Linked DNA regions of Homo sapiens: all the other regions are linked to region 3. The links come from fine-mapping of genetic effects on plasma protein levels. Region 3 holds a variant in brackets. A gene starts in each other region. All regions are shown on their reverse strands.

Evidence for each region. PIP is the posterior inclusion probability: the model's chance that the variant is causal. Protein levels are from antibody-based Olink assays in UK Biobank. Linkage for the fine-mapping came from a reference panel and not from the study's own genotypes, which makes the PIPs less certain.
Region 1: it holds the start of HAVCR1, and the variant in region 3 is fine-mapped to the plasma level of the HAVCR1 protein (UK Biobank, PIP above 0.99).
Region 2: it holds the start of COL15A1, and the variant in region 3 is fine-mapped to the plasma level of the COL15A1 protein (UK Biobank, PIP 0.97).
Region 4: SCG2 starts here. The variant in region 3 is fine-mapped to the plasma level of the SCG2 protein (UK Biobank, PIP 0.97).
Region 5: CLEC1A starts here. The variant in region 3 is fine-mapped to the plasma level of the CLEC1A protein (UK Biobank, PIP above 0.99).
Region 6: CLMP starts here. The variant in region 3 is fine-mapped to the plasma level of the CLMP protein (UK Biobank, PIP above 0.99).
Region 7: HSPG2 starts here. The variant in region 3 is fine-mapped to the plasma level of the HSPG2 protein (UK Biobank, PIP above 0.99).

The regions. Positions count from the first base shown.
Region 1 is chr5:157,056,634-157,060,711 of GRCh38, reverse strand. It overlaps HAVCR1 (hepatitis A virus cellular receptor 1), which reads left to right and starts at 1,596. Exons shown (of 9, transcript NM_001173393.3): 1 at 1,596-1,791; 2 at 2,757-2,814. The coding sequence starts at 2,769.
Region 2 is chr9:98,943,603-98,947,665 of GRCh38, reverse strand. COL15A1 (collagen type XV alpha 1 chain) reads right to left here and starts at 3,759. Exons shown (of 42, transcript NM_001855.5): 1 at 3,594-3,759; 2 at 3,416-3,504. The coding sequence starts at 3,604. COL15A1-AS1 (COL15A1 antisense RNA 1) reads left to right here and starts at 3,014. Exons shown (of 1, transcript NR_198999.1): 1 at 3,014-4,063.
Region 3 is chr16:20,378,604-20,382,681 of GRCh38, reverse strand. The region is part of intron 3 of PDILT (protein disulfide isomerase like, testis expressed); the gene reads left to right. Among named protein-coding and RNA genes, the nearest start is that of PDILT, 24 kb to the left of the region's middle. The variant C/T (reference allele first, on the strand shown) is at 1,672.
Region 4 is chr2:223,600,439-223,604,516 of GRCh38, reverse strand. It overlaps SCG2 (secretogranin II), which reads left to right and starts at 2,156. Exons shown (of 2, transcript NM_003469.5): 1 at 2,156-2,232.
Region 5 is chr12:10,096,753-10,100,830 of GRCh38, reverse strand. It overlaps CLEC1A (C-type lectin domain family 1 member A), which reads left to right and starts at 1,846. Exons shown (of 6, transcript NM_016511.4): 1 at 1,846-2,023. The coding sequence starts at 1,909.
Region 6 is chr11:123,193,126-123,197,203 of GRCh38, reverse strand. CLMP (CXADR like cell adhesion molecule) reads left to right here and starts at 1,956. Exons shown (of 7, transcript NM_024769.5): 1 at 1,956-2,291. The coding sequence starts at 2,264.
Region 7 is chr1:21,935,390-21,939,389 of GRCh38, reverse strand. HSPG2 (heparan sulfate proteoglycan 2) reads left to right here and starts at 2,080. Exons shown (of 97, transcript NM_005529.7): 1 at 2,080-2,235. The coding sequence starts at 2,173. RefSeq lists a silencer at 1,692-2,041 and an enhancer at 2,789-3,630.

The DNA of each region.
Region 1 (4,078 bases), not on the chromosome of region 3:
CTGGCTCCACATCCCTGTCTTGGCTCTCTGTGGCTCATCAGTTCCAGAATAACTCCGTTACCAGAATAACTCCATTACTAAAATTCTACCGGGCAGCACTCTATAGGAGGGAATAGAGACAGACACCACATATATTGCACACACAGATAAAATGGATTAAGGAAAACAAGATAATAATAGTGAGAGGGACTGGTTGGCTACTTTAGATTGAAGGACCTGTGAAAAATGTCCAGGGAGGTCATATTTAAGCCGGGATAAAAATGAAAAGGAAAAAAGTGAAAATGGTGGGGCTGGGGAGCTAGATGGAGAACACAGCCACGGAAAAGGCCTTAGGGTTGAGGCAAGTTGGAAAGAAAGCTCTAGTAGCTGGGGCTGAGTCAGCAGGGGAGAGAGTGGTAGAAGAAATCTATGGGGTAGGTCAGGGCCAGACCACCAGGGCTTCAGTAATTTGAGTAAAGATTTAGGAATTATTATTATTATTATTATTATTATTTTTCTGAGAGAGTTATGAGAGGGTTATAAGTGGGGGAATGATGTAGTCTGATTATATATTTACCTTTACCTCACTTATCCTGATTTCATTAGTTGCTTACTTACCCATGTCCCTGCCCGATTGCACAAGTCTGGATTTTTGACGTCCCTAGTATATTGAGTCATGTCCCATCAGCTCAATATGTTAGTAATAACTGGTTGAATTGAATTAGCTTTTTTTTTTCAATCTTTTTTTCCTTAAGAAACAGGGTCTTGCTCTGTCACCCCGGCTGGTGTGCAGTGGCACAATCATAGCCTCCAACTGCTGGGCTCAAGCAACCCTCCTGCCTCAGCCTCCTGAGTAGCTGGGACTACGGTCAGGTACACAAGGCCTGACTATATTTTTTGTTCGTTTTTTTTGCAGAGAGGGAGTCTTGCTATGTTGCCCAGGTTGGTCTCAAACTCCTTACCTCAGGTGATCCACTTGCCTTGGCCTCCCAAAGTGTTGGGATTACAGGCGTGAGCCACTGTGCCTGGCAAGAAATGAATTTTTATTTTTATTTTTGAGATGGAGTTTTGTTCTTGTTGTCCAGGCTAGAGTGCAATGGCTTGATCTCGGCTCACTGCAACCTCCACCTTCCAGGTTCAAGCAATTCTTCTACCTCAGCCTCCTAAGTAGCTGGGATTACAGGCGCCCGCCACCACCCCCAGCTAATTTTTGTATTTTTAGTAGAGTCGGGGTTTCACCGTGTTAGCCAGGCTGGTCTTGAACTCCCGACCTCAGGTGACTGGCCTACTCGGCCTCCCAAAGTGCTGGGGTTACAGGCACGAGCCACCATGCCCGGTCAAGAAATGAATTTTTAAACGCTGCCATACAAAACACTATGCTGAGATCATCCACTTCCCCATGAACCCTGTCATGAGCTGCAAGATACAGACCACCACTGCCTCCTTGGAAGTTACTGAATTCTTAGACCAGAAGAGGAGTTAATGAAGTACTAGGCAAGCTTACTCATGTTTGTATGGTTTAATGATTAACAGCAGAAGTCAACAGCCCGATTTAACGCATGTGGGTGCTTGACACAGAGCCTGCTATATAGTATTCTCCAAAAACCTCAGCTAGTGCTATTACTGCATATGATGTAGGTTTAGTTTTCCAAGTTCTTCCGTGGCCCTTTTTGCTTATTATATCAATCCTTGGTGGGAGATAGAGGAAGCATTTTTAGTGCTATTTTACAACTGAGGAAATAGAGGTTTGAAGAGAACTCAGGAACTCTCAGGGTTACCCAGCATTGTGAGTGACAGAGCCTGGATCTGAACGTAAGTCTGCTCCAGACTTCTGTTTCCTGAAGCATTCTCTTGAAGTCCCTTGGTAAGGAGGTGTAGTCTGAAGCATGTTGTACAGGAGCATGAAAGGTTAGGCACAGTGATTCACATTCACTCTCAATTTCTCTTGCTAATGGCAAACTTGGCAATATGACTGTTAAGGCTAGGGATAAGTCGTTGTGGCCACTGAGTAGGAAAAGCTCCACGTCCACCAGAGGCCCAGTTTACTCTGAAAAGCAAGTGCATCTCTGCCACTGGAAGGCTGGCATTTGCTCTCGTGCTGCCATTGAGCCACGCTGGTTCTCTGCTTCCAGTTTCCTTTTCTTTTCTTTTTTTTTGTTTTGTTTTTTGAGACGGAGTCTTGCTCTGTCGCCCAGGCTGGAGTGCAGTGGCGCGATCTCGGCTCACCGCAAGCTCCGCCTCCCGCGGGTTCACGCCATTCTCCTGCCTCAGCCTCCCGAGTAGCTGGGACTACAGGCGCCAGTGACCACGCCCGGCTAATTTTTTGTATTTTTAGTAGAGACGGGGTTTCACCCTTTTAGCCAGGATGGTCTCGATCTCCTGACTTCGTGATCTGCCCGCCTTGGCCTCCCAAAGTGCTAGGATTACAGGTTTGAGCCACCGCGCCCGGCCCTGTTTCCTTTTTGTTTGTTCCCCTGATACCCTGTATCAGGACCAGGAGTCAGTTTGGCGGTTATGTGTGGGGAAGAAGCTGGGAAGTCAGGGGCTGTTTCTGTGGACAGCTTTCCCTGTCCTTTGGAAGGCACAGAGCTCTCAGCTGCAGGGAACTAACAGAGCTCTGAAGCCGTTATATGTGGTCTTCTCTCATTTCCAGCAGAGCAGGCTCATATGAATCAACCAACTGGGTGAAAAGATAAGTTGCAATCTGAGATTTAAGACTTGATCAGATACCATCTGGTGGAGGGTACCAACCAGCCTGTCTGCTCATTTTCCTTCAGGCTGATCCCATAATGCATCCTCAAGTGGTCATCTTAAGCCTCATCCTACATCTGGCAGGTAAGTGAGTAGGTGCCCTGGGCGGGAAGAAGGGAGTAGAGGGGGGTTAGAAGCCAGAGAATGGGGTAGGGGAAGGGGAGGGGATGGTGGTGGTGGATTAATGTAGATGTTCTTTGGGTACCGTTGTATGGCTATGAGTTAACTAGTGAGCAGGACCAGAATAAAGTTTTAGGCCAAAGAAATTGCTTAACTGCTGTGAATTACAACATTCATGGCTAAATGAACAAGGCAAGATGCAGCACAGTGTGTCACAGGCTGCCCTTTGTGTTTAAACAAAAAGGGTGTGGTTAGATGTATATGCATAGACACATGTATATAGGAAATAGTGACAGTGGGTAATGTGGGATGGGGGCAGAGGGTGGGAGGTGGAGGGAGAGTTAATCCTTATTGTATTTTTTTGTGCCTTCCGATTTTTTTCAGCCACATTCAATTCTCTTTCTTTCTTTCTTTCTTTCTTTCTTTCTTTCTTTCTTTCTTTCTTTCTTTCTTTCTTTCTTTCTTTCTTTCTTTCCTCTCTCTCTCTCTCTCTCTCTCTTCATGAGGTCTCACTCTGGAGTGCAGTAGGGCAATCTTTTTTTTTTTGAGACAGAGTCTCACTCTGTCGCCCAGGCTAGAGTTCAGTGGCGTGATCTCGGCTCACTGCAGCCTCCGCCTCCTGGGTTCAAGCAATTCTCTGCCTCAGTCTCCCAAGTAGCTGGGATTACAGGTACCTGCCACCACTACCAGCTAATTTTTTTGTATTTTTAGTAGAGACAAGGTTTCCCCATCTTGGCCAAGCTGATCTTGAACTCCTGACCTTGTGATCCACCTGCCTCGGCCTCCCAAAGTGCTGGAATTATAGGCGTGAGTCACCGCGCCTGGCCTAGTTGGGCAATCTTGATTCACTGCAACCTCGACCTCCTGGGCTCAAGTGATTCTCCCACCTCAGTCTCCCAAAGTGCTGGGATTATAGGCGTTAGCCACCACATCTGGCCTAAGTATTTTATTTTGAAATAAACACTTTAATTCAAAACATTCTATGAGATAAGGAAAGAGTAAAATAGACATATCCTAATTTTTAAACACAAATTTCTGGAGTGATATATGCCTTTGGGATTATGGGGGAAAAATAATCTCTCATTATATACTTCTATAACCAAATTGTAATAGCATGCATTATATGTGTAATCCAAAAAAATGATACTAGTATTAGGCAAAATTAAACAAGAATTTCTTGGTGGCCGGGCGTGGTGGCTCACACCTGTAATCCCAGCACTTTGGGAGG
Region 2 (4,063 bases), not on the chromosome of region 3:
AGGCCAGCAGCTTTTAAGTTGTGAGCTGTGTGCCAGCTCTGTACCAGGCTGGCTAGGAACCCCACCTTGAAGCCCCACCAGATCTGGGGCCTAGATGCTCTGGGAAAATACATTCTTTTATTTAAGAAGCAGCTTTATTGAGGCATAGCTTACATTCCATAAAATTCACCCATTTTAAATGTATAGTTAGATTATTTTAGTAAATTTATAGAGTTGCACAACTACCACCACAATCCAGTTTTAGAACACTCCCCAAAAAGTTTCCTCATGCCCCTTTGCAGTCAATCTCTGCTTCTGTTTTCTGTCTCTGTGGTTCTGCCTTTACAGAAATCTCATATATAGGGACTCTTACAATGTATTGCTTTTTAATGTCTGGCTTCTTTTACTTAGCTTAATGGTATTAAGGTTTATCCATGTTGTTGTAGCATTGATCAATACTTCATTCCTTTTTATTGCTGAGTAGTATTCCATTAAATGGATACACCTCATTTGTTTATCTATTCACCAGCTAATGGTGAATTTAACTTTATTTCCAGTTTTGGTCATTATAAATAATGCTGCTATGAACATACATATGAGTTTTTGGGTGGCCATATGCTTTCCTTTCCCTTAAGTAGATACTTAGGAGTGGAAGTTCTAGATTGTAGGGTAAGTATATATTTAACATTTTAAGAAACTGCCAAATCGTTGGGAACATGTATTTCCGCTCATAACAGCCCACTTACAAACATGCTTTCAGAAGCCACCCCACTTAAGCATACAGCATAGTGGTTACAAGTACAGATTCTGGAGTCAGACCCTCTGGGCTCAAATTGTGCTTATATTACTGAAGGCTACATGCCCTTGGGCAAAAGACTGTGCCTCAGTTTCCTCATCTGTAAAAGGGGATAAGACATGGGGTTGTTGTGATGATTGACTGAGCTCATTCATGGCAGGGCACTTAAAACACTGCTGGTTCATAGTGCTATGAAGTCTTGGCAATTGTTTTTTATAGCCAGTTGGGCAGTGGTCCTATGGAAGGAACAGCACCAGCCCAGAAGTTCACAGACGTGAGAGGGCTATTATGGATCTACCCAGTTACAGTCATGCGGCCTTGAGGAAGTCACATCCCCTCTGTAAGACAGAGCCCAATTTACTTCTCAGCACTGCTGGGTGGTGATTCCAGGGACGTGGTGAAGGTGACATTGTGCTTTGAAGACTGCACAATGCCATGCAATGGACTCATGTTACAATTGTGACATTCAGATTGTGGGGCTCATTGGAGACCATGGAACCCCTAAAGCCTTCTCCATCCGTGAAGCTCTTCTAACTACACACTAGGATGGTTAAGAGCAAGGACTCTGGAGTCAGACTGTCTGGTTCAAATCCCACCCCAGCCACTTAGAAGTCTTGTGACTTTGGACCTCTGTTTCTTCATCTGAAAAACAGAGATAGTAACTGTTCTCAGTCCTCACCTCCTGGAGTGGTTGTAAGGATTGGATGAATGAAATATGAACATGTTCACACCTCCACCTGGATATACAAAGTGTTTTATAAGTATTAGGGATATTAAATTGCATTACAAATGCAGTTTGCAGGAGGATAGTTTACATTTTTAGGAATCGTTTCACATCCCCAAAGGGGCACTGAAAACCCATCAGTTGCAAATGGCCCTCCTTAGACCGTTCTCAGCTCCTGAAGGTTTGCTGGCCCTCCCTTTTTACATTATAAATGGGAATAGGGCTTCCTTTGTGTTAGAAACAACAGCCCTGACACTGAGGGATCCCAGAGACACACACAGGAGGAGAAAGAAACACCAAAGTTCCTATCCCCAGATCCATCTTCCTTTTGGGAAACTGGAAGTTGCAGCAAAGTTCACAAAAGACCATGGAACCCAAAGTTGGCCTCTGCCACTGAGTTGGCAGGGCCCTATATCATATGCAAAATTGCAACTTTCTGACATGAGCCATGGGGCTGAGAAGCTAAAACTATACTCCAGCTGCCCTTTGATCTGCAATAAATGCCAGGCTGGACACTCTGGCAGGAAAAGCTATCATCGGATTTGGGTCTTGTTGCCCAGGAGACAATGGGCTGTCTTGGGCTTCTTCAGGCAAACAAAGAGTTAACCAAGGCCACCTTCTCAATCCCGTTTCCTTTGGGCCGACTAGAGGTTGTTTCCTAGACTTTCTGTTCCCTTATTCAATTGAAGATGTGTACTAATCCCCCAAATTCAAAGGGGAGGGGGTCAGAAGCTATAGAAAGCATGGCTCTTCTGCAAAACTGCATGGAGAAAGAGCTGAGCAAGGGCAAGAGCCTACAGACCTGGATTCAAGTCCTGGCTTTTGGACTGGCCACTTTCTAAGCTTCTCTCAACCTCAATGTTATAAAAATACCTGCATTGCGATGGGATTAATAGAAGCCCAAACCTCAGCACCGTGCAATATACCCTTGTAAAAAACCACACATGACCACTCCCTGAATCTAAAATAAAAATAAAAATACTTGCATTGCTTTCCAACACATAGTTACTGCAAGAATCAAGCAGTAATTTCTATCACTTATTTTGTGCCTAGTATATACTGGAATCATGGGAAGCACATTATTTCTAATTTCTCTAATATTCACAACATTTCTAGGAAGGTAAAATGGTCTAATTAATCGCCTTTTTCAGATGGGGAAACTGAGGCACAGAGCGATGAAATCCATTGCCCAAGATCACTCAGCCAGCCACAGTTCAAACCCAGGCAGTCTGACCTTAACCGAGGCCCATTTTAACTTAGGTCTACTTTAACTTATATCTTACTATTCAGCCAACCGCCTGAGTTCTGCTGGAGAAACTGAGGCCCGGGGAACGGAAGGGATCAGATCTCTGGCTTCCAGGCCACAGCTCTTTCCACCACCGGTGGAGCCACTGCCCATGATAGACGTGACCGCTTAGGTAACTCAGAGCTGGGTTAAGCAACCGAGCAATTCAGTTCCGTTATTTCTTGAGCAGCAAAAGCCCCAGATGTCCCTCCCGGTGTTCATGCTTCGCACCTGTGTGCGGAGAGGCACCAGACCTGCCCTTACCAGAAGCCAGCCAGCACGCACAACCTAAGCTGCTGGCGCTGGGTGCGCTGAGGCTGTTGGCGCTGGCGCTGGCGCTGTTTCTGAAGTCCCTCTCTGCCTAAGATTGGAGGCTCCGCACCCAGCTCAGACATCTCGGGTGCCCAGACAACGCTCCAACCGCCCCAGCTGCCCAGGGATCCCATTCACAGCTATAACCCCTGCACTGCCAGGAGGTAGCCGCCCGCGGGACCGCCAGTGCGCACTGAGTGGCAAGACTCCCTTTTATGTCCAGGAATGAGGCACGCATCGCAGCCGCGTCCGCCGCCAAAACCGACTTCCCCCACGGGCGCGGAGGCAGCCGGTGCCACCCTCCGACCGGGTTGCTTACCTGTCGCACCGCGGGTCTGGGTGACAGCAGGGAGGGGCGTGGAGACCGAGAGCAGCATCAGCAGACACCAGCACTGCCCGTTGTTCCTCCTGCAAGATGTGCCCGAGGGAGAAAAGGTGAGGCGGGCAAGAGTATTGGAGGGGCCCGGGACGCGAGGAAGCAGAGAAGCGGGTCTTACCTTGGTGCCATCTCGCGGGTCTGCGGAGCCCCGGAAGGCGCGCGGCTAGTCGAGCAGAGCGTTGGAGCTTAGCGGAGGACGAAGGGTCGCTGAGCGCTGGCCGCCGCGCTCGCCCTTCCTGCAGGGAACAAAGGCGGCGCTCGGCAGCGGCGGCGGCGGGCAGAATCCCGGCTCCCGGCCCGCGCCCCGAGTCACCCGCGCTCTGAAACCCGACTCCGCCGCGCCCTGCGCTCCCCCGCGCGCTGCGCACTCACGCCCGGGGGATACCGGCCGCCCCGGCCGCCTCCCCACGCCCCTTTCCCCCTCGACGGACGTGCGCTCGCCTCTGCTGCCTCCACCCGCGGCTGCCTTATGTAACCTGCGAGGAAAGCCCCGCGCCCGCGTTCGTTGGGGCAAGCGGGATGGGCTCCCTCCCGCCCTTAAGTCTGTCCTGTCGGGGCTGACCCGCAAGAAAGCACTCTTTCACAGCC
Region 3 (4,078 bases):
TACCTGTAGCATATACTGTGTTCCAGGCATTGTTCTAGACCCTTCTCCTATGTCATAACACCCCAATATAAGAGGTGCTTTTACAGATGGAGAAACTGAGGCACAGAAAGGTAGAATAACTTCCTCAAAGCTGCCCAGTGAGTAGTGGTGGAGTCAGCAAATGTTTTCTGCAAAGGCCCAGATTATTAATATTCCAGATCCTACAGGCCAGGCAGTCTCTGTTGTAACTACTCAGATCTGCTGATGCAATGTGAAGGCAGCCACGTGTTAACAAATGGGAATGACTGTGTTCCAATAAAGTTTTATTTATACAGTCAAACAGCAGGCCAGATTTGGACTACAGGCTATAGTATGTTGAAATCCGCTTTACATTGCGCTGTACTCTAAGCAAGAGGCAGATGTGTTCATTATTATTATCAGACTATTAGTTTTCTCATTCTAGTCCAATGCCTGGAACAATTAAGTTCTTAACAAATAGTTTTTGAGCCAGGTGCAGTGGCTCAACCTGTAATCCCAACACTCTGGGAGGCTGATATGGGAAGATCACTTGTGCCCAGAAGTTTGAGACCAGCCTGGTCAACATAACAAGACCCTGTCTCTACAAAAACCTTAAAACTTAGCCAGGTGTGGTGGCAGATACCTGTATTCTCAGCTACTTAGGAGGCTGAGGTGGGAGAATTGCTTGAACCCAGGAATTTGTGACTGCAGTGAGCCATGATTGCACCACTGCACTTCAGCCTGGGTGACAGAGTGAGATCCTGTCTCTAAATTTTAAAATAATAATAATAAAAGTTTTAGATTTTGAATACAATGGAATTGGAAGCACCCACTGCAGGTGGGCATAGGGTAAAGTACCCACCCATATTTCTGCTGGGCTTGCTTCCTCAGTATTACTTCTAACCAGAGAAAGGGCAAAGGGAATGCCAGGATGAAGCTGGGACAGGGATTGAGGATGCCTGGATTTTAGGATGAGCAGTAACCATGGGAACTTCAACGAGCCTTTTACAACCAGGCTTCCAATTTCTCTTTTTTTTTTTTTTTTTTTTTGAGATGGAGTCTCACTGTTTTGCCAGGCTGGAGTGCAGTGGTGCGATCTCGGCTCACTGCAACCTCCGCCTCCCGGGTTCAAGTGATTGTCTTGCATTAGCCTCCCGAGTAGCTGGGACTACAGGCATGTGCCACCACTCCCAGCTAATTTTTAGTATTTTTAGTAGAGATGGGGTTTCACCATGTTGGCCAGGATGGTCTCAATCTCTTGATTTCATGATCCACCTGTCTCGGCCTCCCAAAGTGCTGGGATTACAGGTGTGAGCCACCGCACCCGGCCCAATTTCTCATTTTCTAAACAGGATGAGTAAGGCCAGTTCTGCCTACTTGCCAGGGCTCCTCTGAGCTGAGAGGAGACAGTGCTTTACGCATCTTCTGCAATGTGACTTTGATGAAAACTCCTCTTAGGACACTGGTGGGATTTAGTCCTTGCAGGGTCAAAGCCCCAGTCCCATTCTCATCTAATCTCCAAGGATTGATGGCAGGAGACTTGGCCATGGCCATTGCTCTGGAAGGAGGGAGACTCAGGTTGCCTCTAGGCCTCTATTAATGATGCAGCCACAGTCTGTGCCTGGAAATATGCAGCCCAGTGCTGGTCCTAGTCAATCATTGACATTGCATTCA[C/T]ACCTCAGTTGTCACCGTGTCCTCTGGCACAGAGCCAAGCACCAAAGGAGGTCCCTGACAAGGGCAGTGCCTGATCTGCAGGCACAAAGGAATCAACAATTTGCAGAGTTCATAACTACCTCGGTCCCACAGGGGCCAGAGGGGCAAATGGAGCTCACACGTCCCCAAGAAGATGGCCCAAGATCAAGTTTCCTCAAGCCAGCTTCCCTGATGATTCATTCAGCCCATTCATTCATTCTAGAAAGATTTCTTAAGCATCTACTATGTGCCAGGCATTACAGGAGCTTACTGGGAGCTCACACTGAACAAGCTAGTGAAAAATCATTCTAATAATTTCAAGAAGGGATAGACTCAATGAAGAAAATAGGGTAGCTCGGCTGGGCACGGTGGCTCACGCCTGTAATCCCAGCACTTTGGGAGGCCAAGGCGAGTGGATCACGAAGTCAGGAGTTCAAGACCAGCTTGGCCAAGATGGTGAAACCCCATCTCTACTAAAAATACAAAAAATTAGCTGGGTGTGGTGGCGGGCACCTGTAATCTCAGCTACTCCGGAGGCTGAGACAGAGAATTGCTTGAACCCAGGAGGCAGAGGTTGCAGTGAACTGAGATCACACCACCGCACTCCAGCCTGGGCAACAGAGTGAGACTCCATCTCAAAAAAAAGAAAAAAAGAAAAAGAAAATAAAAGAAAAGAAAATAGAACAGGTCATAAGACAGAGAGTGATTGGCTAAAAGAAAAGAAGAACCAACTGAGAATTGAACAGGCAGAAGAAGGCACTGCCCTTGAAGAGCTGAGGAAAGGGCAGCCCATCAGGAGGGACAAGCCAAGGCTGAAGCCAGTGTTCTGGAAGATAACTGTAACGTTGGAGTGTGGAAAGGGCAGAGGGTGGCACAAAGTGACATCAGAGCAATGGTTCTGATGACCTGAAATTTAAATTCATTTGGCAGGTTTTGTTTTTGGATATTTTCAGATTTTGTAAATCAATTCCTTTTGGATCACTTACAATATACTTTTGCCAGACAAAAGCATATAAGAGAAACCATTTGTTTCCAAGTGTGACTTATTTTTACCTAAAGATGGCTGGAAACACTGTACAGAAACTCAGTGTTGAGGCTGATATCTCAGAGGAGGGAATTACAGCAGATGTGGGGTACCAAGGTCTGAGGGTGGCATGATGCCTCCTCCTTCTCTCTTCTCTTGAAGCCACCATATCAGCTTCACATGAATTTCCATAGGTTTGACTCATTGTGGCTTTTAACATGACCTTAACTATATCTACTAAAGTTGAACATGGCATCTGCTATGACCAGAAATTCTCCTGCTGGCTATACACCCAACAGAAGTGCATACAGTGTGCCCCAGAGACATGCACAAGAATTCATTCAGAATAGCCCCAGCCGGGCATGGTGACTCATGCCTGGAATCCCAGCATTTTGGGAGGCTAAGGTGGGAGAATTGCTTGAGCCCAGGAGTTCGAGACTGGCCTGGGCAACATAGCAAAACCTCGTCTCTACTAAAAATTGCTTAAAAATTAGCCAGGTGTGGGCTGGGCGTGGTGGCTCATGCCTGTAATCCCAGCACTTTGGGAGGCTGAGGCGGGAGGATCACCTGGAGTTCGAGACCAGCCTGGCCAACATGGTGAAACCCTGTCTCTACTGATACTAAAAAATTAGTGGGGTGTGGTGGCACGTGCCTGTAGTCCCAGCTATTCGGGAGGCTGAGCCAGGAGAATCACTGGAACCCGGGAGGCAGAGGTACGGTGAGCCAAGATTGAGCCCTTACACTCCAGCCTGGGCAACAGAGCAAGACTCTGTCTCAAAAAATAAAAATTAGCCAGGTGTGGTGGTACATGCCTGTAGTCCCAGCTACTCAGGGGGCTGAGGTGGGAGGATGGCTTGAGCCTGGGAGATCGAGGCTGCAGTAAGCCACGACTACACCACTGCACTCTAGCCTGGGTGACAGAAGGATAAACTGTCTCAAAAAAAAAAAATGCCCTAAAATGAGAGCAACTAAATGCCCATTAGCAGAGAATGGACAAATAAGTTGTGGGATATTCACAGCAGTGGAAATGAATCTTCAAGTACATGAAAAACTGTGGCTGAATCTCACAAACATAATGAAACCAGAGCCAAGAACATTTATATGAAGTTCAGGAACAGGCAGACTAATGTAATCTGTTACAAGTTAAGGTGGCAATGGAATACTACAAAGCCATAAAAAGGAATGAGATCGTGTCCTTTGCGGGGACATGGATGAAGCTGGAAGTCATCATTCTCAGCAAACTAACACAGGAACAGAAAACCAAACACACTCACTCATAAGTGGGAGTTGAACAATGAGAACACATGGACACAGGGAGGGGAACATCACACATTGGGGCCTGTCTGGGAGTGGAGGGCGAGGGAA
Region 4 (4,078 bases), not on the chromosome of region 3:
GAGCCAATCCATCCCAGCAACAGCCTCCTGGCATCTCACATCTACTTGGAGATTTTGAATGAGGTTTTGCATGTCTTTTGGATGATTGAAGATATTTCCAGGCAAGATGTTGACTCTGGGGCTTTAGAAGAACCGTAGCTTCTGGTTCTTGCCAAAAAGTTTAGTTCCACATAAATGAATTAGCCTAGTCAGGATGACTTTCTGGAGGGCTTTTGAGACCTATGCTGAACAAACTCAACATTTTAAGAATAATTGCAGAGTTTTCTAAAGCTGCGTTGATACTGGTTAGTTGAACTGGTCACACAGAACTGCTGGACAGAAAATTAGGTCAAACTTGGAGCAGCTAGCCAGGGCTTTGTTAAGATTTAAGGCAATCTTAGCTAAGGATGTCAGTGAATGAGCTGGTGTCATTGAGATGATGCTTGAGAAATGGGTCATATTTAGGTCTCTTCAACCCAGCATTTGATCATGCCCTAAAAAACCACTATGAGGCAAAATTTGTTGGATGAATTGGACATATAACCCCAGTCTGAGTGTATATGAATTCATATCAATCCACAAATGATGATCTCCTAGTCGTTTAGGAAAACCAAATAGGGAGAATCGAGGCACATTTTTCCAAGATTTTTTCTGTAAGACTTTAAGCCATTTCCTATTTTTTCGAGGAATTCAAAAGTACTAACATAGTTAGAAATCCTTGTAAGAAAACCTGATAGTGAGAAATCTCAGCTTAGGCCTTTTATTCCAGGACATTGTTTCCCCCTGAATTTCTAGGTTGAACCCATTGGCTATCCAAATGGTCCAAACACTGCTAGCTAACCTCTCTATTGATGCTTTCCAATTTATATGAAAATTATGTGTTTATTTGCATGTCATCCCCATTAGCTGAAAGGCTCATCAAAGGCAAAAAAATCACTTATTTTTGTATTAGTTAACAATTGTGCATTTAGCAATGTATCTGGCACCTAGTAGGTATTACAATTTATTGAGTCAGTGGCTGATTGTTCATTTAGCAGAAACACATGGGATCTCTTATATGGCAAGATTCTGTTGCATTCTTAAAGTATATGTCAACATATACAGTTTTTAGAAACTCATATCTTTAATAAAATAAAGTTTAAAATTTATATCCATATAAATTATTGAAATATATAATCAGGTTATCTGGTAAGGCAGAGGAATGATTATGAATTATAAATCTGAGAGGTTGAAAGTTAATTGCTGTATTATTCCCTGGATTGTTCACATTCATGGAAGGTATTCAACTCATCTGATTCAACAGGAGAAGGGAAATATTTATAGTACAACTTCCTTTCGATTGCAAATGAATTCTAGTTACGTATGTGTCACATTTTTCCCAAACAGTGAAAAGACTTTTTTTTTAAGTAGATGAAAGTATTTTCATCAGCACTCAACTTCTGAGCTTCCCTTTCTGAGATCAGATATTGTGAAAGACAGTAACAGAGATATAAAGAATTATTAGCTACTAAGCTTGAAGTCTGATAAATACCCATTTAAAAAACTATATAAGCTATTAAAGTTGGCTCTCATATAAAAGAGAGAGAACTCTCTGTTTTATTCAAATAAATATGATTTTAAAAGAATGATGGCTGTGGTCATGATAAGAAATATGGCCTTTCATATTTATAATGTGTCCTCCATTCATCTTGGTTATAACAGGAAATGGTAATGTAATTTCTTTGTGGGCAAAGATGAAAAAATAATCCTTGTCTGTAAAACTTTCTTACAACGACGACAACAATTACAACAGTGACACCAAGAAACTATTATAACAAGTTGCTAGAACATAGATGAGATTGTCTTGCAATTAGCCATGTCTGTCTGACACACATTTCTTTCTTTGTAAGAGAAATCGTGCAGAGCAGTTTATTCCGTCTCAAAGATTTTGATAAAAGAAAAAGGAAAACTGCAATTTTTGCCACAAAAAGACAGGTGGCGTAAGCATGCAACTTTTTTTTCTTTTCTTTTCTTTCTTTCTTTTTTTTTTTTTTTAAATATAAAGTGATTATTTTCTCTTGGTTCTTTGAAAAACCTCGCTTGTGCTGGGGTTTGTGGCTGAACCCGGTGACGTCAGTGTGGCAGTGCGGAGTCAGGCGCAGCGGCTCCCTATAAGCAGAGGAGCTGTCCGTGTGCTGAAACGGCCCGAGAAGCTCGCCCGGAGAACGGGGAGGAATATGCTGTGGAGCTCCTCTGCCATATAAACAAAAAGAGGTAAGGCTGCTTTTCTCTTTGATTTATTGGAAAGTTCCAAATTGCATGCTCTTCTTTTAATTCCTAGCTGAGAAGAAAAAGACTGTTTGGCAAGCTTATGTCGATAGGATAACTGAATAGCAACCTGCTGCTCATCAGCCAATGTAAGGACACTACATATGTGTATATACATGATCGGGTCTATGCTTTATACTACTTGATGTTGGATATTTACTAACCAGAATGTTACTTAGATAATCATATAAAAAAGAGTGAAAAAGTTAAGGATTTTAGTGTCAATACACAGATTAATGTAAAGTTAACCAAGCCCAATATCTTGTTTCTTTCCAAAATTTATTATTTCTGCCACTAAGAGCCAGATACGAAGCCAGGGGTATAATTTATATGTTTAATATTCTTAACAGTAGGTTTCCAATGATACAAAGGCTGTCAAGCATGTTAGTCATAAAGGCAACCCATTTTGGAACTAGGTTTTTTTTCTTTGATATTTATCTTACAAGAGCTCTGAATTAACTAACCACATAAAATTCTTTTCTGAACTTGTATATTTGAAAGAGCTTACATTATTATCTCCTAATTTTAGTTCTAAGATGTTAACTTAGGATTTTCCTGAACACTGGATTCTTCCTTTTTCCAGGGCAAAATATTATCTTGGGTTGTAATTTGGCTGTGACCATGAATTACAGAGAAATGATCATTTTGAATACATGATGAAAATACTCATAACTTTGTAAATTGTTATTGTTATTGCTATAATTTGATTTAAAGAGGATGTTCAATATGTTGCTAAAGATTTTGTCTGGGACAAGTATTTCATTTTTTCTGTATCCCAACTAGTTGAATTGCTTAAATTACATATAGTCACCTGCATGTGTCAATGCTCTAGCCTGAATTCAACAGAAAAGACATTTTAACTTGAGAGATTTTAATGATAGCTATCAGGGGAAAAATAATGTTCTAATTATTTGGATTTCAGAAAATTCAATTTTAAATCAAACCCCATATAGAATAGTAGAGCTGTTGAAACATCTTTACTACTTGAAAGAGCTGCTACCTGGGAAAAGAATCCTTTGGGTCTCACTCAAAGGCAATAACTATGTCATTCAAACTGAAGCTGAATAGTTAAGCAAAGGGTAGCACTTCTTAGGCTGTGGTTTAAACAACTGCAATGAGTAGTCTGCTTCAACTTTACAGCAAAGTGCAGTTCCAAGATAATGATTTTAAAGATGAGCATATAATCCACATGTTAAGACTATTTCAGTATTGTGGCTTCAAAAAAAATAAGTTCAGTAAGGTTTTTAAGATTATTATTTCAAATGCCAATGTTGAAAGTTGATTACCAAAGCTACATTAATCCTGAAATAATATAAACAAGAGTGCATAATGTATTTTTATTTGAACCTCATTATTTTATGAATAAAATTACTTATAGTAAACATGTATTTATAATAAATATTTTGGAAGTATCCTCTCAAATGCCTTTCAAGATGTTTCTTTCAATAAATTAAGTACTCTGGTAAACGTGAATCATTTAAATAGGTATATACGTATGCTAAAATGTTTTCATAACTAAGCCATTATTGGGCTCTAAAAAACTGGAAACAAAATCATCAATATGATCTTGTGAACAATGGTATTTTCTACAATTGATGTCTAAGCTAACAGAAAATTGTATACATATAACTTAGCTTATCTATCACAAAACCATGATCTGGTAAAGATATGAACAAACTTGTAAACTCCTCTTACATTCATTTTGTTTACAACAAAATAGCCAATATTAAAATAGTTTTTTCAATGTTAGCAATATTAAATGTAAAACACATAAAAACTAATCCTCTTCCTA
Region 5 (4,078 bases), not on the chromosome of region 3:
GTTCAGTTCCTGTGTTGCTTCTTGGGAAAAGAGTTCACAGTGAGAAGGTTTTTTTTTTTTTTTTTTTTTTTCAGATGGAGTCTCGCTCTGTTGCCCAGGCTGGAGTGCAGTGGTGTGATCTTGGCTCACTGCAACCTCCGCCTCCCGGATTCAAGTGATTCTCCTACCTCAGCCTCCCCAGTAGCTGGTATTATAGGCACCCGCCACCACGCCCGGCTAATTTTCATATTTTCAGTAGAAACGGGGTTTTGCCATGTTGGTCAGGCTGGTCTCGAACTCCTGACCTCAGGTGATCCACCCACCTCAGCCTCCCAAAGTGCTGGGATTAAAGGCGTGACCACCATGGCTGGCCCACAGTGAGAATTTTTTACTCACTATTTTGTCCTTCCAAGTGGTAGAGTCATGCTAACACTGCCTCCAATCTGCCATCTAAAAAAAAAAAAATTCCAATTTTTAAAAAATTTAGAATAATTTGATGAACAACAAACAGCTTGAAACACATGTGAATCCACAATGTGCACTTCCTCATAGATCTTTTATATGGTCTGGCTACCCCAACTGGAGCATTCTGACACTCCTTTATATTTAGCATGCTTGATTTTGCCCACCTATCACCTAACATCTGGAAAAGTTTTGGTAGAGTAATATAAGTCTATTGTACAGATTCAGGAAGAACTTTTAGACATTATCTAAAACAATCTTCTTGTCTTTCAGTTTAGGAAATGTAGATGCAAATTGTTAATTGTCCTCCCAAAGGCACAAGGTTGTTACTGATACCTGTCTTGTTATGGTTTGAATGTGTTTCCTGCAGAATTCAGGTGTTGCCAGTGTGGTAGTATTGAGAGAGGTGGGGCCTTTAAGAGATGATTAGTCCTTGAAGTCTTCTCTCTTGAGGATGGTATTAAGGCCTTTATAAAAGACGCTACATGTAGCATTTGGCTGGCTTGACCTTCTGCTTTCTGCCACGTGAGAATACCCTTCCTCCTCTACAGAGAGTGCAGCTCTCACCTGACATCCAAACCTGCCAGTGCCTTGATCTTAGATTTCCCACCTTCTGGAATGCTGAGAAATACATTTCTATTGCTTATAATTTATCTGGTCTCAGGTATCCTGTTGTAGGTCAGCACAAACAGACTAAGATGGGAATATAATTCTAATGTACTGATTCAGGAAGAATTTTTTCACATTACCTAAAACATTTTCTTCTCAGTTTAGGAGATTTAGGCACAAATGAACTGGCTTCCCCAAACCACATGGTGGTTAGTAATAGTTTTAAAAGTTTTTACTTCCAGTAAATTGTATAATTCCTCGTGATCATAATGTACCAAATGTGCTATAAAATGTTGAATCAAGTTCAGATACTATAAGAAAGACCACTACTCTGTTCTTGGAGAAAGGAAGGGGCTAGGTCCTATAATCTCTTCTCTTTTCACAAAGACACAGAGAGGTTAAACTAAGTGACTCCCTAAAGGATGGGTAAGAAACAGGGATGTGTGTCCTTCCAAGTTATTATTATTCTGCAGACTCTGAAGGAACCACAGTGCTACACCGTGCTATTGTAAGTTCTTGCCTTCTTTACAGTGAAGTTACATGAGAAATGCAAACAGGTAAACAAAAAAGACCTGAGAAAGGCCAACTTTTTGACAACTGTTTAGACTGAGACGGCCTAAACAGAAAACACATGCTATTTCCCCTCAGCCTGACTGATTTGGCATTCAGAGTACAAGCTCACAGGAGAGGGGCTGGGCCTGTCCAGTCAGGAATTGCAGTCAGAGACTTTCCCTGCCCCTCGCTGGGAAAGAACATTAGGAATGCCTTTTAGTGCCTTGCTTCCTGAACTAGCTCACAGTAGCCCGGCGGCCCAGGGCAATCCGACCACATTTCACTCTCACCGCTGTAGGAATCCAGATGCAGGCCAAGTACAGCAGCACGAGGGACATGCTGGATGATGATGGGGACACCACCATGAGCCTGCATTCTCAAGGCTCTGCCACAACTCGGCATCCAGAGCCCCGGCGCACAGGTACCCTGTCTCCTGGAGTCCAAATAGACCACAGTCCTTGTGAAATGTGTGAGATGATCTATCCCTCCTAGAAATGGAGATATTTAGCTTGCATCTTATAATTTTATTTCCAATTACTCGCCCTGTGACATAGTAGTGATTTTTTTTTTTCAGTTATATTCAGTTCCATAATTCCCACACTTAGAGAAGGATTTTATTTCCTGGGCCACTCAGCCAATCTAAAGCTAAAATATGACTTCAGTTCTAGTGAAAAGGACTCACATGGTAATATACACAGGACTAGGTTCTAGGTCCTAAACCAGGTATGCCACTTTCCTTCTGTGTAACTTTGGATGAGTTGTTTAAGTATCCTGGTAGCATCATATTCTTTATTTATAAAATATTAACGGCCACAAACATGTATAAAGGGCTCATTATGTGCTGGCAGTGTTTTAAATACTTTAAGTATATTAATTCATATTAACTTGACTTAATATTAAATAGAAGTAATAAAACTTCCTTTACAAGGTGGTTGTGAGTACTGAGAATGATAAATTATGTAAAATATTTGAATGTCTGTCTGATCTGATATAGACTGACACAAAATTGCTGAAAGGAACACTTTAGGTTCTTAAGAAATGGAATGTTGAAAGGAATCCCACATTTTAACATTCATTCAGTGCCTGTGTTTTAATATGCCCTTTCCCTTCTGATTATATCATTGTTTTCTTCACCTTTGTAAATCTGGATATACCTTTAAAAAAAAAAAACTATCCTGTTCCTTATTTCTTTATCAAATAACTTTTAGTTTTCCTTCCTTTCTCCTACTAAACCCTCCATTCACTTTCTATTTATTTCTATTTATTAAATGACCCTCCACCTGAAACCTACTAATATGGCTTTTTTTTTTTTTAACTAAACTACCCAGTAAGCTGTTAAGGGACATTGGGGATTTCCAACCTCTTTGAAATGAAGCTAAGTGACAAAAGTAGGGATGTCAGCTTTTGTAGCCACAGGATATGTGTAATAGGATACAAAGCGTTTTCCTCCAAAAAAACTTACGAAGAGTCCATTTTTACGGCTGTGGTTTTGAGTAGCTTGTATATAACTTCATTTTCCACCTTTGACTGGAGCCAGGAACTCTGTCAAGGACTAGAGATCAGCATAATTAAGAACAGCATGTACAAATAAGTTCTGCTGAGGTTGAAGGGTGGAGAGGGAGGTGGAGCAAGATAAAACACTAGCTGCAACATCTGGGAGCTTCTTTGTAAGAAATGGATATTGAAACAGTAGAAGTGGAGATTACAAAGAATTGTCTTGGAAGAAATCATCTGGAAATAGTTATCTTAGGCAACATATATGAGATCTTGTTTTCATCTTTTTATGGTAATACAAACATTTAGGGGAATACCATCATAGAAGTATAATTATTTCTTAGATAAACATATCTGATATACCTTCGCTGATAAAAATAACAGCAGAAATCACTCAGAAATTTTCGGCAATGTGGAGGATTCAGATTCAACATAATGATGTGATACCATTAAGAGCTGGCAACTTTTATTTTTTAGAATTAATAAAAATAAATCACACACACATTCATTTAATTTCTAGACTTTTGTCAATAACAATTGACGTAACAACTATGTTTGTGTTTAAAAATGCCAAACAATTAAGATAGTAAAAATGCCAAACAATTAAGATAGTGAAAATGAAAAACAACAACCTCATACATTTTTCACAAACTTATGTTTGGGGTCATGTTATCCTAGTACTGAGGATATAATGTCCAATGTGATATGGTCCCTGTTCATAAGGAAATTGAAAGTCTAATACAATTCTCAACTAAGGAGTAAGTATAATAAGGTGTTATGGCAGAAGCATGTACAGTACAGCCGAGAGCTTAACCAAGCTCTCGGCTTAATTTTTACCTAATTAAGTAGAGGAGTTCAGGAAAGGCTTAACAGAAGGAGCAACTGTGGAGTTGAGTTAATTTTAACATCTTCCACATAATAAGGAATCGGGAGTGAGGGTGTTTGAGAGGCTGGGGACACTATAGACAGAGAGACGTATGAA
Region 6 (4,078 bases), not on the chromosome of region 3:
CTTCGGAGTCAAAGAGACCTTTTAAACACTTCTCAATATAAAAAATAATATTTTTAAATATTAGAATATTAATATTGGAATAGAAGCATTTTAATTCTATTGTGATCTGGGGCAAGATATTTAGGCCTCTCTAAGTTATAGTTTCCTTGTCTTCCTATTCATGCTAAGGGATGGTGATTTTTTTTTCAGTGACTATCCCTTAGCAGTATAATAAGAATGATATAAAAAGGTCAATAATATGACCCAATAAAAACCACGTAATAATATAATATGATTCTGGGTCCATACTTGGTGTTCATGACATACTCCTCCCAGGTTTTTTTAAATGTCAACTTCCAAGTTCTACTCACTTTGTGTCCTCACACCTAAAAAAGCACCTGGCATAGTGTGGATGCTAACACATCGGTATCGAAGGGGTGAGGGAGTGAGTGGAGAAATGCTGCAATTCTAAAGCAATGCTCCAGCTGATCCGCGAGCCCTAGGAACAGCCCCAGCTTTTGCAAGTCCTCTGAGTGACCTTGTGAAACTTCCATAACCTCTCCAGGCCTTTGCTTTCCTAGTCTGCGAAATGGGACGGGTTTTCATTACACATTTGCATTTCATTGCAAATGTGTGACTCGGCAGCCCACCGGCCCCGGCGGGGTTCATCTTTCTTCTCAAGAGCGCTGGCCCCGGCTTCCAACCTGGGCTCTGGCGAGGCCGAAGGTGAGCGATTGCGTCATCATGCCTCTGGGCAGCTGAGGGAGAAGCCCTCCAGGGACATTCAGAGACTGGGACCAGAGTTTCTGAGAGGCCCTGGGCACAAGGTCAGGGCAGGAGGTCCAGGCAGCTGAGGTCTGAGCGCCACCCTCACTGCCCTTTCTTAGTCTCGCTGCCTCCCGCTGCCGCTGAGCAGCAGGGTAGTGAAGGGCAGACTCCCAGGGGCCGACCCTGGGGCGGGGCTGCTCGGCTCCGCGGAACCCACCGTCCGCCCCCGTCCGGCCGCCAGCCTCCTGCCCTCCGCGAGCCTCCTGGGCCGGGTTCCCGGAGCCCGGGCGCGCAGGCCCTGGCACCAGGGGGATTCTGCTCCCTCTGCCTTATGTTCTTTCTGAAAGGGGGTGGTGCACATTTTGGCCAGGGCCACGTGCAGAGCACTTTGCTGCAAAGCATCTCGATAGACCTCTTTCCACGGGGCTGTGGGTCCCCTTCCCCTGGGTGCTGGCTGGCTTAGCTCTGCTCGGGACCTGAGGGAGCGCTGCTGCAAATACCGACAGTAGAAAGCGAGCGAACGCGAAAGGCCCCAGGAAAGCCAGGCCAAGGGGGGTAGCCGGGTGCCAAAGCAGGCAGTCGGTGGGGAGAGCCCTGGTCGGCCGGCCGCTGGCTGCCTTCGCACCCACTTCCGCGCCCCGCCGTCGGCCTGGTCAGTCTGGTGGCTTTACACTAACAGAACCAGACGGGGAGGGAGAGGAGAGGCGAGAAGAGCGCAGAGGACAGAGGGGAGAGGGCATGAGGAGACGAGGAGGGAGAGGCAAGAATGCGAACAAGGAGACCTAGAGAGGAAGAGATGGAAGAGAGAAACGCCAGATTTGTGAGAGACGTGGAAGCAGAGAGAAACGAGAGTAAAAAAGAAGCGAGAGAGAAGTGGAGAGAAGGACCAAGTGAGAGCAGAGCTCTAGGAACGGACAAGGCCTCGTCCATGGGCTCTCAGCCGAGGTGTCACCAATGCCTCCTGCAAAGAATCAATCCTACGCCCGGCGCCTCTCAACCCACCCGCCTCTGCACGGCCCCAGGTCTCCCCCGGCCCTCCCTGCCCGGCCAGCTCACGCTTCTCCCCGACCGGCCCCCACCGCAAACCCCAAACGCCGCGCGGGAGGGAGGGAGGGAAGGAGGGAACAGCGAGAGAGAGAGGGAGGGGCTGCGGTAGGAGGCAACCATGTGGTTCCAGCTGAATTTTTTTTTTCCCTCTCTCTTTCTTCACTCCTTTTTCTTTCCAAACAGGGAAAAGTGTTCCACGAAGCGGTAGCGCCTTTTCGCCTCGCGTTTTCCTCCCTGACCCTGGTCCCGGCTCCCGTCCGGGCGCCAGCTGGTGGGGCGAGCGCCGGGAGCCCATCTGCCCCCAGGGGCACGGGGCGCGGGGCCGGCTCCCGCCCGGCACATGGCTGCAGCCACCTCGCGCGCACCCCGAGGCGCCGCGCCCAGCTCGCCCGAGGTCCGTCGGAGGCGCCCGGCCGCCCCGGAGCCAAGCAGCAGCTGAGCGGGGAAGCGCCCGCGTCCGGGGATCGGGATGTCCCTCCTCCTTCTCCTCTTGCTAGGTGAGTGCCTCTGGGAGGGCGGGAGTTTGGATGGCCGTGGGCAAACGCAGCCCTGCGTCCGGGAAAGACGCCGGTTCTGACCGGGTGTCCCTGCAGCCCCTGGAGTCAGCCGGCTTTTCAGTCCCTGCCTCCTGGCCACGGAGGAGCACATCTGGCAACCGAGGGCCGCCCAGTCGGCCATCGAGATTGTCTCGCACATCTGGGCCCTTGAACAGGCTTGGGGAACCGTTTGATGTGCAGGGTCCTCTTTAGGGCGGTGTTTAGTTTCTGGTGTATCTGGGAAAAGTGGAGAATTGGTGGAGGGAAGGTTTATCCAGGAATTTTTGTGCCAGGTTCCTGAGGGTGGGGGTTTTTTGTTGTTGTTTCAAACAGGCGCCTCCGAGGCTCAGATTAGAAACAGATGTGTTAAAGGGTGAGCAGAGTGGGGGATAGGCAGGGTTGGAGAGGAAAGGGGAGAGGGAAAAAGGGCAGGGCCCAAGGAGCACCAGGAAGATGCAAATGCCCCAAGTCACACAGGGAAGGAAGGAAAAGGGGAAAGGGGAAGGGTTGGGAAGGAGAGAGAAAAAGAGGAGAACAGGAATGTAAAACAGAAGAGCAAGGCTGGGGGAGTCCGAGCACAGAGAGTGAAGAAGACTTGGAAAAAACGCAGCAGAGGAACCAGAACAGAGGGAAATAGAGCAAGCACCACTTTTTCCTGAAACAGGCTCCAGAGCAAAGGGAAGAGTCCTCCTGAGCGTCCCTTCCTGGGGTCCCCCAGGCAGGACTCTTGGGGCCTCAGAGGCCCTGAGGCAGAGGCAGGTTTGCAGGAGAGGACATCAGGGATGTGGGTGGTAGGAGCCCACCGGAGTGACTGGAAATGTCTGAGGAGCCAGGGCAGGAAAGGCAGTCAGGGAGAGCCAAGGGCACGTCACTATGCACCCTGAAGCATGGGATCCACTGCAGACAGGCCCCACAGTTAGCTGGAGATCAGAAAATCAAAGAGCCAGCCAGTGGTCAAGAGTGAGCACTACCCTGAACACCAGGCCACGGGAGAGCTGGTCCTGGTTTTGAACTGACTAGCTGGGTGGCCTCAGACAACTTACTCCTTATCCAGGGCTTCCACGTCTTTAGCTCTGGAAAGAGAATACTAGATGGTTCCTAAGTCCCTTCTAGCCTACAACACCAGAGGTTTGAAGGAGGCTGGTGTCTAGAAGAACCACCAAATCCTGAAATACGTGGTTAGAGTTCTCTGTCTTTTTTGAAACTTTACAAACCAATTATACTGTATGCATACCCATCTTGGCCAGCCTCAGGCTGATAATCACTTAAGTTAGAGAAATGAAAGAGGTGGGCTAAGCCAAACTATTGCTCAAGTAAGGCAGGTGGGGAGGGGTTATTTTCTAAACTCTTTTAGACTTAACCAAATACTGCAATACTGTTCCTGTGCACATCTGGCGCAGCTGGATGGCACCTTGATTCCCTTTACTGGACTCTACCACTAGGTTACCAATCACCAGATATTTAGTAGAATGAAACTTCAGGGCTCTCTTATTAAAAACAGCTAATAGTCCTTGTTATATGAACACTTTATATGTACTATCTTGGTAATTCGTTTGTTCTTCACAACAAGCCTATTGGCTGCCCAGCCATCCTTGTTGGCTACCCTCATTTTACAGATGAAGAAACCAAGCTGTAAAAAGGCCAGGTAACTTGCTCAAGGCCACACACTCATAATTAGGGGAGACGGAATTTGAGCGCAGGCTGCCTGCTTCCAGAGAAAGCTTGCTAAAGCGCATTGCTTTACAGCC
Region 7 (4,000 bases), not on the chromosome of region 3:
TCTATCAGACTGAGAACAATACCCGGACAGGGACTATTCTTCCCCACACCTCTATCAGATTAAGAGTTTACTGAGGGCCAAGATTGGGCGTCCCTCCTCTGTCCACCCCTATCTCCCTGTGCGGATCAGAGATAGACCTTATTCAGTGCTGTGCCTGGAGCCTGGGTTGGGGCCAGGCAGTTGGCCTGACTACCGTGGATGCAATTTCTGTTCTTTACAACTCTGAGCTGGTCCCACAGAAATATGCCCCACAGGGCATATTTTGGAGATATCTTTTGGAGATAGGGGATCTATCTGGGATGGGGGTCAGGATGCCAGTGTTTTTTCAATCCCCCAGATGCCTGGATGAGAGGCCCCAATGTGCTTGGGAGCCTGCGGACCCCTATCACAGGGAACATAGCTTCCGGAGCCAGGCCTGGTGCCGCCCAGTGAGCTGGGCATTTCCTTCTGTCCACAGCTCACCTCACTCCTGGCTGCAAACCCAGCCATGAGTTTCTGGAACCTAGCAACTCTCACAGGAAACAATGGAAACTTCAGTTTTATTCTCCTCCTCTATCATTACTCAAAAGGTTTTCCTCAAAGCTACACACACATAGTTTTCCTCTCCACCCATCAGCCTCGGGCTGCCCTGGAAATTTCAGGCAGAAGAGGGGAGCTGAAGAGTAGGCAGTGAATAGGTCTGGGGGCTTGGTGCTGTTTGCTGCCTGCGGTTGGGTCAGAGACAGATCATGGGGCTGTGATTTTACCACCCACCCGAGCATCTGTGATGGGGCTTTGGCAGGGTCTGTCTGTCTGGGCCTGAGTGTGTGAGTTGGTGTGGTTCTGGCTCTGGGGCTGTGATTTATGTGACTCAAAGTTGGTGTGTGAGTGATTTACATGGAAAATGGTGCAGGTGGGGTGGGCAGCTCAGTTCAGTACCCAGTGCCCACTATGAGGCACTGTGATTAGTGGGTGAGAACAGGTAAAAGATACAGGCTGAGGCTGGGTGCGGTGGCTCAATGCCTGTAATCCCATCACTTTGGGAGGGCAAGGCGGGCAGATCACAAGGTCAGGAGTTCGAGACCAGCCTGGCCAACATGGTAAAAACCCCATCTCTATTAAAAATACAAAAATTAGCCAGGCGTGGTGGCACGCCTGTAATCCCAGCTATTCAGGAGGCTGAGGCCGGAGAATTGCTTGAACCCGGAGGCGGAGGTTGCAGTGAGCCAAGATCCCACCACCGCACTCCAGCCTGGGGACAGAGCGAGACTCCTTCTCAAAAAAAAAAAAAAAAAAAAAAACAAGCTGGTAAGCATGTAGGCAATGATGTGGGCCTGTGTGTGAAATGTGCGTGCCTGCGAGGAATCTATGTGAAAAGGCGTCCTCCCGCTCCGTGACTTGTTGGGATGTATGCGTGAGTGAGGGGCTGAGTGTGGTGTGAGGGCTGTCTCCTGTGTCCCTGGTGGAGGTGAGAGTTTGGAAGCGAGTTAAGTGTGCATGTGAGCCGGTGAGGATTGTTGGTACTTCAGAGTTGGGTCCAGAGTGTGAAAGTGTTCCCGGGTAGCGCACAAGTGTGTTCGTGCAGTAAAGTTATGGTGTGAAGGTGTTCTTGGGTGTGGAAGTTGGCGTGCACGTGTGGCGCGGAGCGGCAGCTGCGTGCGTGTGAGCGTGGGAAGGAGATCCCGGGATCTTCAAAAGCTGCGCGAGTGGAGTCGGCCGTGCGGGGCGTGCAGGGGCGTGGAAGTCGGCGGCGCGCGCGGGGAAGCGGGGGAGCCGGGGATCGGGGAGGCGAGAGCGCCTGGCCCGGCGGCCCCATCCCATGCCCGGGCCCGGGCCCCCGGTCCCCCGCCCCGTCCCATCCCATACTCCAGGCCGGGTTTGGCGGGGAGCCGGGCCGGGCCGCGGCCCGCGCGGAGGGGGCTGGGGGCCCAGACAAAGGCCTAGTAGGCTGCGCGGCCGGCTGGGGCGAGCAGAGCCCGCGGCCCGGGGGCGGTCCGTGGGCGGGGCCTGGCGCTCCGGGGAGGGGCGGTTCGGGGGCGGGGCCGGCGCTGCGGGGGCGGGGCGGGCGGGGAGGAAAGGGGGCGGTGGGGAGAGGGCCGCGCTGTCCCGAGCTGGCCGGCGAGCGGGCGGCTGCGGGCGGCGCGGAGCGGGCGGCGCGGAGCGAGCGAGCGAGAGAGCGGCGCGGGCCGGGCCATGGGGTGGCGGGCGGCGGGCGCGCTGCTGCTGGCGCTGCTGCTGCACGGGCGGCTGCTGGCGGTGAGTGTGCGGGGCAGAGGGGCGGGGGGCGGGGGCGGAGGGGCTAGGGGCGCCCCGGTCCCGCTCGCCGCCTCCCGCCAACTTGGCTGGGGCGCCCAAGGCTGCGCGGCGGGGACTCTGGCCCGGGACGGCGGCGCCCGCCGGGGACCCCGGGCCGGCGCCACCCTGCGGCATGGGGCTAATCCAGGGGGGCCACCAGTCAGGACCCTTCGTGGGGCTGGGGGCGGGGCTGGCCCGTGTGGGAGCCCGTGGGTCTCTCGGCCACGTTGCCGAGTGCTGGAGTCTCGCTGGGCATGGTCCGGCCTACCATTCCTGGGGACCAGGAGGGGAAACTTTGAGCAGGGTGGGAACTTGGCAGGACGAGGGAACCCTTCTGCGCCAGCTTGGCAGAACGGCCACTCAGTGGTGATGGGGACCCTATGAGTCTCGCTGAAACTTTACCACACCGTCTATCACCTTGGGGAGCTTGGACCCAGGTAGGCACAAGCAAAACTTTTGGGACAGAACTGAAGCTTGTGTGGAACACCCACGGGCCTTGGAGTCATACAGCCGAAGAGTTGAATCAATCCCTGCCTTTCACTGAGTAACTGTGTGACCTGGGGCACGCTAGTTAACCTCTCTGAGGCCAGCCCCACGTGGGTCAAGGGAACTCAAAATGCACGGCCTCAAAATGCATAGCTGCAGGGCGTTGCTGGACTGCGTGGAATGAGCTGCAAAGTGCGTGGTGCGGGGATGCAGTGCACCCTTGGGGGACCCGAGTTCCCCAGCTTTCCTCTTCCCAGGTCTCCAAGAGGCAGGGAGAGGCCTGCCCTTGCAGTCTAGTCCCCTACTCTGAGCTTAGGTGGAGGAAAAGGGAATTCTACGGTCAGGAATCCCGAGGCTTAGAAGGCACTTGGCCAGCAGAGGCCCTGAGGACCTGAGTGAACTTGAGGAGGACTGGGTGGGGTCGGTGGGCAGGGAGCTAGTGGCAGATGTGGGTGGGGGCACATCTGGGGAGCCGAGCCTACCGTGGGGAGCCACAGAGCCACCCCCACTCTCTCCGAGGTGCTCCTAGGCAGTCCCCATACCTGCCTCCCTGTTCTCTGAGCCAAGAGAGGGACTTTTCTAACCAGGCTGGTGTTTACCCAGGAACTGCCTGCCTGGCCTCACCTTCCTGGCTTCATCGCACCTCTACCCTCCTGAGTCACTCGTCAAGCCCCCACCCAGACCTGGCTCCTCACTGCTCTTGCCCCACCCACCCAGCACTTCTCCTCCCCCATCCCCACTCTGGGCAGCCTCCTCTGTCGTCCTCCTGTTTCAGCCTCTCACCCCAAAATATTCAGCAGGGCCATCCAGTAGCTCCCTAGTCTTGACCTGAACTTGCACTCCTGGCACTGACTTTTACTTTTCCCAACGCACCAACCTAGCACGTGGGATGTTTTCCGAGGCCCAACAGTCTTTCCTGACCTTCCCCCAGCTCTGCCCCCGATGAGGGGCTCCTCCATGCCCGGGTGCGGTAGGATGGCGGTGGGTGGAGTTGTTTGCTGTGTGCATGAGGAATTTCCACAGACATTCCTGGACCGTGGCAGATCATCTCATTCACTTGTTCATTCAACAGATCATCACTGAGCGACATTCCATGGCAGTCACTGGGAGTACAGAGGTTCATTCTTTGGGCAGATATTTGCCATGCACCTACTGTGTGCCAGTGAACCAGTGAACCTCGTGTGGTGCTAGGGGCTGGGGTGGGTTGGACCAGCAAGGACAGGCCCTGTCTGTGCCTTCC